Regions from separate parts of the Homo sapiens genome. Here region 1 is linked to region 2. The links come from fine-mapping of genetic effects on gene expression. A gene starts in region 2. The other region holds a variant in brackets. All regions are shown on one strand. Distances are between the middles of the regions.

The links.
Region 1: its variant is fine-mapped to the expression of NR2F6 in whole blood (INTERVAL, PIP 0.99).

The regions. Positions count from the first base shown.
Region 1 is chr19:17,319,414-17,323,719 of GRCh38, reverse strand. It overlaps DDA1 (DET1 and DDB1 associated 1), which reads right to left. Exons shown (of 5, transcript NM_024050.6): 5 at 422-4,174. The coding sequence ends at 4,064. ANO8 (anoctamin 8) reads left to right here. Exons shown (of 18, transcript NM_020959.3): 18 at 1-497. The coding sequence ends at 203. Among named protein-coding and RNA genes, the nearest start is that of DDA1, 12 kb to the right of the region's middle. RefSeq lists enhancers at 157-206, 1,748-2,364. The variant C/T (reference allele first, on the strand shown) is at 1,852.
Region 2 is chr19:17,243,426-17,247,797 of GRCh38, reverse strand. It overlaps NR2F6 (nuclear receptor subfamily 2 group F member 6), which reads left to right and starts at 1,879. Exons shown (of 4, transcript NM_005234.4): 1 at 1,879-2,855. The coding sequence starts at 2,578. RefSeq lists silencers at 1,159-1,238, 1,639-1,888, 2,289-2,448, 2,459-2,528 and an enhancer at 946-1,895.

The sequences.
Region 1 (4,306 bases), 76 kb before region 2:
AGGCCCTGGCCGCTGCCGAGTGCCCACCCTGTGCCATGGCCGGGCCCCCACCCGCCCCCCAGCCCCTGCCGGGAGACGCCAGCTTTTACAGCCTCCCGCCCCCACCGCTACCGCCCACCTCGGATCCCCTCGAGACCCCAGCGCCCTCCCCTAGCCCCAGCCCCAGCCCCCAGGCCGTGTGCTGGCCCAGCGGCTGGCATTAGCTCTACCCGCCCTGCCTTCTCTTCTCATATGCAATATCAGTCATTCACAGGGGCGGCCGGTCTCCAAAATGCAAAATGCGCTTCAGCCCCCGAGGGCCCCCAGTATTGGTCGGTGCCCCCCATCTGCCGTTTTCCTTTCCAAACGAAAGGAAACCCACAAATCCAACAGAAAACACACACACACACACACACACACACACACACAGAACAGGCGATTATTTATTTGTTTTTAATTTATTTTGTCATATTTTTGTAAAACGGCAGAAATGCAATAAAAACTATATTTCAACAGTGCCCGAGGTCAGAGCAGTGGAAAAGGGAGTGGGGGTGGGGGAGTCTGGGTGGCTGGGGCCTAGGTTGGGAACCCCCTCCCCCCATCCTGGTACAGGCTGGCTTGACCCATGAGGGCCTCCTCCCAAAAACTGGGTCTTGGCCACAGATGGAAAACTCCAGGCTGCGCCGCCTCTGAGACGGCCCAGATTTGGAGGCCAACTTCAGCCCTGGCTTCAGCCACTAGACAAAGGAAGGAATCTCTAAGTGCTGAAAAGAGGCGACAATGTGTGCACAGGCCCCAGTCCTGAGTAAGACTCCTTCTCAAAGAGGACAGCGCGGTGGTTTGCAAGACGTGGCCCCTTCTGGCACACCCGCCTCCTGGAACATCGTCTGGGGAGCCAGAGACAGTGGGAAGAGCTTGTGGCATGAACATCAGAAGGCACCTGGCACCTGAGCCTCCTGCAGTCCCCGACTTGTGATACTGAGAGAATGGCACATTTGGGTGTCCCCAGGACACGGGGTGGCATTGGGATGCAGCAGGGATGTCCCACTGTGGGACAGACATCAGACCCAAGTCACTGGGACTCTGTCGTATGACTCAGGAACAGGAACGTGGCCTCTCAGACCCTCACATTTTTCAGGAAGAGGACAAATGTGTCCACATCCAAAGGCTTAAGGCTCAGAGACCAACATGGCCATGCTGCAGGGCTGGGCCAGTGTGAGCAAGGGGCCCTTTGGGAGGCTGTGGAGAAGTCAGAGTTCACTGGAGGCAGGAGAACAGCCTGTGCAAAGGCGGAGAAGGTGGAAGGCAGTTTGGGGGAACAGTGGGGTAAAGGGGACCCCAAAGGCAGGAGGGGTAGACAGAGGCCGGCTCAGGGGCCCAGCGTCCTCCCACAGGCAGTGGGAGCTACACAGGGTGTGTGTGCCAGGTGGGGCATGTCCCGACAGACCCAGGGGTTCTAGGGGGAGGCCACAGGGAGGCAAGCTGGGGCACAGCCCTCAGACCCCAAAGGAGGGAGCTGAGGTAGGGGAGGGGAAGGAGGTGCCCGCCCAGCAGCCCTGCAGAGCGACGGGCAGACAGCACAGGCAGGAGACAGCCCCCAGCCACTCAAAGCAGAAACTGGGAGCCAGAGAGGTCTAGACAGGCCGAGGGGAAAGGCGGGAGTGCCCCCTGCTCCCACTCTGGCCCCTGGCCTTGGAAGCTGAAGTCCCACCATCTCAGTCATTCACAGATGGACACCGCAGGCCTGCCCAGGTCACACCAACCCTGGGGACTGGGACTCCCCAGCTGGCCTGGGAGCCTCCAGGGCATTCAGCCGGACCCGGCACCATCGACCGCAGTCAAGTGTGCATTTCCTGACCACCTGTCCTGTGA[C/T]CACATGGCCCCTGTAGCACCATCACTGTGGTGTAGACACTGCCGGGAGCTGGGAGGTACAGCAGGGTGGCTGTGCTGTGCCTGGGCCTGGTCAGCCACTCCTTGTGTAGGACGGGAGCCCACCCTGGCACTCTCCGTCCTTGGGAGAGATGGGCCGCCTAGGCCCGAGGGTCTGACACAGGCAGGGCCCTCCACAGTGGAATCTGGGGCAGGCGGACCCTCCATAGCCCGGAGTGTCTGCTAGCTCTGTGGCCCAACCCTACACCATCCCAACGCCCTCAGACTCAGCTCTCAAAACAGAGACCTCTGCCAGGCACGGTGGTTCACGTCTGTAACCCCAGCACTTTGGGAGGCTGAGGAAGGTGGATGACTTGAGCCCAGGAGTTTGAGACCAGCCTGGGCAACATGGTGAAACCCTGTCTCTACAAAAAATTTTTAAAATATTAGCCAGGCAGCCAGGTGCGGTCACAGCACTTTGGGAGGCCGAGGCAGGCGAAGCACCTGAGGTCAGGAGTTCGAGACCAGCCTGGCCAACATGACAAAACGCCGTCTCCACTAAAAATAGAAAAATTAGCTGGGTGTAGGGGCGCACGCGTGTAATCCCAGCTACTCAGGAGGCTGAGGTAGGAGAATCACTTGAACCTGGGAGGCAGAGGTTGTAGTGAGCTGAGATCTTGCCACTGCACTCCAGCCTGGGAGACACAGCGAGACTCCATCTCAAAAAAAAAAAAAAATTAGCCAGGCATGGTGGTGGGTGCCTGTGGTCCCAGCGGCTTGGAAGGCTGAGGTGGGAGGAAGGCTTGAGGTCGAGGCTGCAGTGAGCTGTGATTACGCCACTGCACTCCAGCCTGGGAAAGAGTACAAGACCCCAACTCAAACAAACAAACAAAACAAAACAAAAGAAAACTGAGATCCCCACCACCACCAGTGGGGGCAATAAGGGGAGAAGCGGTGTTCCCCCAGCCCCAGGCTCAGTGGTCAGGGCCACAAACCTTCTGCCCAGAGCCCGAACACCCCTACATACCCAAGCTCAGCCCCAAACCCAGCCCAGCTGGCGGAAGAGGGGTCCCCATGAGCGGCCATGGCACATGCCAACTGCCAGGTGCCAACCTTCTGTACAGCTCCTCTATGACCCAGCAAGGGTGAGGCCACCACCTAGGACAGCAAGACCGGCCAGATGCCGTCTGTACTGTCACCATGCCTCAGGGGAGCAGCAGAGGCCAGAGACCCCAGGCCCCCGGATGAGGCCGGCCATCTCTGCGGTGTCTGACAGGTGCGCTGCCCTGCTTGGCGGTATCCCAGGCAGGGGGCTGACCCCGCTCCATCCTTGGCACCATGGACCGTCTCTCAGGAATGACCTGTCCTTGGGGTCACCTTGACAGGAGAGGCAGAGGGGATGGTCCAGGCAGGTCTTGGCCTTGAACATGGTGGCCTCAGCAAGCCCACGAGAGAATCCAGCCGGTCCTGGGGCCCCTGGCGTGGGGGGCCCTTCTCACTCCTCTTGGTGACAACAGGGATGACTCCCAGGGGCTCCGTCCTCTGCAGCCAAGGTGTGTGGAGCAAAGACGCGAGGTCAAGTAGGAAAGACCCTTTTATTGGGGTGGACACGGAGCACGCACTAGTCCATGATAAAAATAAAATGACTCAAGAGAAAGATCCCAAGGGCCGACTTCTCCCCAACGTGCGTGCACGCTGAGTGAGGCCTGGGCATGGGAAAGTTCCGGGCGAAGCGTGGGACAAGACCGAGTCTCAATGGCCTGGACCGGTGTTGGGGGGGAGAAGGCCACTCGGCTGTCCTGGTAGGTCAGGCCACCCCGGGCCCGCCCCTGTCGCCCGGCCACAGTAAAGCCCCCGCTAGAGACTCTCACAGACACACTCTGGTTCTCTGGAGAACTGGGGGCAGGAATCGGGGAACTGGCCCGATGGAAGGCGGGGGTCGGGGGGACAATGTTGTTTTTTTTAAAAAGCATCTACCAACATCACACTACTGGGTCTGATGTCCCCTTTAACCAACGCTTGATACAGGTTACAGCATAAATAAAAACTCAAGGAAAATAAATACATCGGCTCCTATGAGGTTGGAAGTGGTGTGGACGCAGGGTGTGGATGGGCCGGCAGGGAGGCGGGCGGGCGGGGTGCTTACACATGGCGGGCAGGCGGGTGGGCGACCGAGGAGCAGACCTGGCAGGAGGCGCCTGTGGAGTTGAGAGTCTTAAGTGTCCTCGTGCATGTCTGGGCTGTCGGTCCGCGCCACCTTGCGGGGAGGTGCGGAGCTCTCGCCTTCCAGCTCCACTTGCTCCTGGTCTCTCTTCTTGGCAGCGTTCTGGGGGACAGGGAAAAGAGAGGGGCTGTGAGTCTTTTTTTTCGGACAGCCTCAACCTTCTGGGCTCAAGCAATCCTCCCAGCTCAGCCTCTGGAGTAGCTAGGACTACAGGCACATACCACCACGCTTAAT
Region 2 (4,372 bases):
TTTTTTTTTGAGACAGGGTCTTGCTCACGCTGGAGTGGAGTGACGTGACGTGATTATAACCCACTGCAGCCTTGAACACCTGGGCTCAAGACGGGTCTCACTTTATTGCCCCGGCTGGTCTTGAACTCCTGGTCTCAAGAGATCCTCCTGACTTGGCCTCCCAAAGTGTTGGGATTACAGGCGTGAGCCACAGCGCCTGTCTCTCATCTAAATCTCTTTTCAATCCCTTCTGAGACCTCCACCCCAATGCTCCCCACCAAAGATCCTAGCAGGTCCAGGCAAGGGGCCTAGGATCCCTGCCCTCATCCCAAATTACCAGTCACATTCCCATGCAGCCTCAGAACCAAAGGGTCGTCTCTGCCCACCCACGCCTTCCTCTCTCCCAGCAGGGATTACATCAGGCTGTGGGCAGAACCCGACTCTAGACCTCGGGAAGTCCTTGCTCATGTCTAATCCTAGTCCTTCCTGCTTTTCGTGTTTACTAACGCCTCCTCCTCCACCTCCCAGGCAGCCAGAACGTCCCTGGAGCAGGTTGAGAGGCCCAGGGCTGGGTGTGCCTGGCTCTCCCAGAACCTCAGTTTCTTTTTAAGTGTTGTAAGATCTCTAAGAATCTTTCCCCCTACTCCAGGGAGGGCAATTCTTCAAGTCTCATCAGGGCTCTGGGAGGCAGAGGAGGGGGTGCGCAGAAGGCACTGTCCTGGCCAGAGCTCTCAGAGGCCCAGCTGCATGCTCTGGTGTCCAGCTCTGGGCTCAGGGCGGGGTGGGACCACAGTCTGGGTGGCTGGGGCTGCAAGACTCCGAGGTGAAAGGTCACTCCTGGAAGGGCTTGTCCAGCCGGTTAAAGGTTAACCTGCCCAGAGCCAGAGGCTCGCCAGCCCGGGCCTCGCATACAAAGGGTGCTTAATAAATGCTGGTCGGGCGGGCCCCAGCCCCGGTACTGGGGGATGGGGTGAGTTGGAGGTGGCGGCAGCTGCGAGGCTCCAGGGCGCCTGGAAGAGACATCTGCAGTCCAGCCGGCCGCCAGGCCAAGCCCTTTCTGCAAAGCACAGAAAGAAAAGGAAATTAAAAGGGAAAAAGGGGCAGGCCCCCAGACAGGGCATGCCTGTCGCCTCCAGCCGCGCGGGGCGGGTGGGCGCCCTGCCCCCGGAGGCCAGAAATTCTGCAGAGGGGCCCCCTGACCTCGCGGCCCCGGCCAGCCGGTCTCAGACCACAACATCCCTTCCCCCTGGAGATTCCGGGCACCAGGTGTTAACCCGAGCAGAGAAAGGGTGGGGTGGGGGTCAGACGCGGCGACTTTCTGGAAGAGGAAGCAAACACAATCTAGGGTGTGTGTGTGTGTGTGTGTGTGTGTGTGTGTGTGTGTGTCTGTCTGTCTCGCGCGCGCGTGTGTCTTGCGCAGGGGCGTACCCCCCCCCCGGGTGCCACTGGCCCCCCATCATTGCTTTGCCAGGAACTGTGGGGTGGGGAGAGGTTCCGAGGGGCGCCTCGAGGGTGATCGAGCGACCCAACGTCCAAGGCCAGAGGTGGAGGGGAGGGCCTTGGAGAGACATCTTGGCGAGGCTCAAGGAAGGGCAGAGGGCAGGCGCGGCTGAGGCTCCCGCCGCGGCCCGGCAGGGGTTAAGGCCCGAGCTGGGCGAGGGCGAGGGCGGGGGTGCGGGGGGAGGGGCAGAGGGAGGCGGGGGAGGGTCAGGCCCCGCGGCCCAGCGCTCGGCCCCCGTCCCTCCCGCCGGCCCGTTCGCCCGGCGCCGCGCGCGGCCACCCATGCCCTTATAAGGGCGGCCGTCGCCGGGGCAACGAGCGCCCGCCCCCAGCCCGCGGCGCGCGCCCCTGCCCCCGCCCCCGCCCCCCGCCCGCCCCGCGAATGGAACGCTGTGTGTCAAACCGGCCGCAGCGCGAGGCCGGCGCGCGGGGTCGGTGGCGGTGGCGGCGGCGAGAGCGAGGCTTGGGCCCAGGCGCAGGCCCAGGCCAGGCAGGAGCGGCCGCAGCGGGGGCGGCAGCTCCAGAGGCGCCGGCCCAGCGGCCCTGCAGGCCCGGAGCGGCAGCCGCGGGCGCCGGGGGACCCAGGGGGCGCGGCGATCAGCCCCGGCGCGCACCCGCCGCCCCTCCCCCCCCGCCACGGGCGGCCGCGCAACTTGCGGCCAAACTTTCCCCCCGGCCTCCCGCGCTCGGATGGCGGCCCGCTGAGTTGGCCGCAGCCCCCGGGCGAGCGGCGGCCAGGCCAGAGGACGCCCCCTGCGCGGCTCGGGCCGGGCCATGGCCCGCGCGCCCCCGCCGGGGCCCCAGGGCGGCGGGACGCGAGTCCTCTGGGCCCCCGGCCCGCGCCTCTAGCGTGCCCCTCCCGGCCCCGGGCCCGGCCCCGCGCACGCGTGGGAAAGTTGGCCTGGAACCGGCCCGACCAGTTCCGCCCGGGCGCGAGGACCGGCCGCAGGAAGTTGCTGCAAAACTTTTTTGGGGGGTGCAGCCCGTGCCCCCCGCGCGCCGGGGCCGAATGCGCGCCGCGTAGGGTCCCCCGGGCCGAGAGGGGTGCCCGGAGGGAAGAGCGCGGTGGGGGCGCCCCGGCCCCGCTGCCCTGGGGCTATGGCCATGGTGACCGGCGGCTGGGGCGGCCCCGGCGGCGACACGAACGGCGTGGACAAGGCGGGCGGCTACCCGCGCGCGGCCGAGGACGACTCGGCCTCGCCCCCCGGTGCCGCCAGCGACGCCGAGCCGGGCGACGAGGAGCGGCCGGGGCTGCAGGTGGACTGCGTGGTGTGCGGGGACAAGTCGAGCGGCAAGCATTACGGTGTCTTCACCTGCGAGGGCTGCAAGAGCTTTTTCAAGCGAAGCATCCGCCGCAACCTCAGCTACACCTGCCGGTGAGCCCCCCATCCGCGCGCCGCCGCCGTGCACCCCGCCCCGACCTGGGGCAGGCCTCTGACCTGCTCGGTCACCTTGGGCCTGGCGCTGACCTTCCCTGGGCCTCCACTGCCCCCTCTGAGATAGGGGCACAGCACCCTCCTCCCGCATTCCATGGCTGGGATTGTGTATACAGTCGGCGCTACATCGTTGCAGGTTCCCCCCCCATCAGGTGGTCCCTGGAGGCTTTTGCCCCAGTTACTTGCTTCTCCTTCCCTCCGCTTTTTCTCTGGGGAGGGGTCATCTCCGCGCTGGGGTGGGGGTAGGGGTGCTGTCAGGGGTGGTAACCCAACCCCAGGGCACCCGTTCTCGGGGATCCCGGCGCGCGGGATGCCCTCGAGGGAATCGAACGTGGAACTTGGACCGTGGAGCTCGCAGCGTCCAGGGGCCATTGTCTGCGGCCGCGCGGATCGATACGGCGCGCCCTTGGGGTCAAATATCACTTCCAAAGTCGCTGTGGCTACGGAGGCGGCAGACGGAGGGAGGCTGGGGTGGCACGGGGCGGCCTTCTTCGCATGAGGGGCCCAGCGGTGGGGGTGGGGGTGGGAGCTGGGCTTGCCCATCTCAGGGAACCCCTCTGGGCTCACTCTGGGCCTTGGGTCACCGGAAATCGCCACTGGAAGGCCGGCAGGGCCACCGGAATTGACTGAAACGTCCCTCTCCCCCAGGGGTGGGTGCAGACCTGGGGCTCCTGGAAAAATCCCTCAAACTTTGGGTGTCTCTGAGACGGGCAGGGAGTGAAACGTTTCCGAGCAGGAGCCTTGGGCTGTCCCAGGTCGGAGACCTCTCTGGCAGGGCGTGGCCTTGCTAGCTGTTCTGGCGGAAGGTCCCCAGGGAAAGCGATCGGGGTTGTCCAGCCCGGGAGTTCTTTTCTCACCGTTCCCGGGCGAGCATCCGATCTGTCCGTTTATAAGCCCCTACTCTGCACCCCAGGAACATGCAGGGTCTCTGTGGAGCCCGTCTAGACGGTCTCAGTTCCCAGCTGCCCAAAACAGAGGCCCAAAGGCCCAGAGAGAGGTCCTGGTGCCTGCTTTGCGTTGGACATGGAGGGACGCTGCCCGAGTTGGGGGCACTGTGGGGGAACTGTGGGGCTAGGGTGGGGACCGCTGAGTTCGGATCGGAGTGGCCCCAGGGAGAACGGCTGATGGAAGGCTTGTTGGCTGAGGCCACCAAATAGGGCCCCAGGTACCCGAGGGTGGAGTTTGGCCCCAGGTCCCGGGTCAGGGCTGGCCTGGTGTGGCCATGTGTGGCAGAGCTGCCTTGCTCCCTCCTCCAGCACAAAGTGGGCCACTAGACTTTGGCCTCATTCTTGCTGCTGGAAAACCGCCTGCTCTCTGGTCATATCTTTAGGGAGGGTAAGGGAGGGGGGCTCAGGCAGTTTTGGGGTCCCAGGAGCTTCCTGAGGGTGGTGTCAGGGAGCAGCAATTTTGGGTGGGGGGGGCCTTGCTTGGAGCTGACAGGTTTGTGCTGTGTCAGT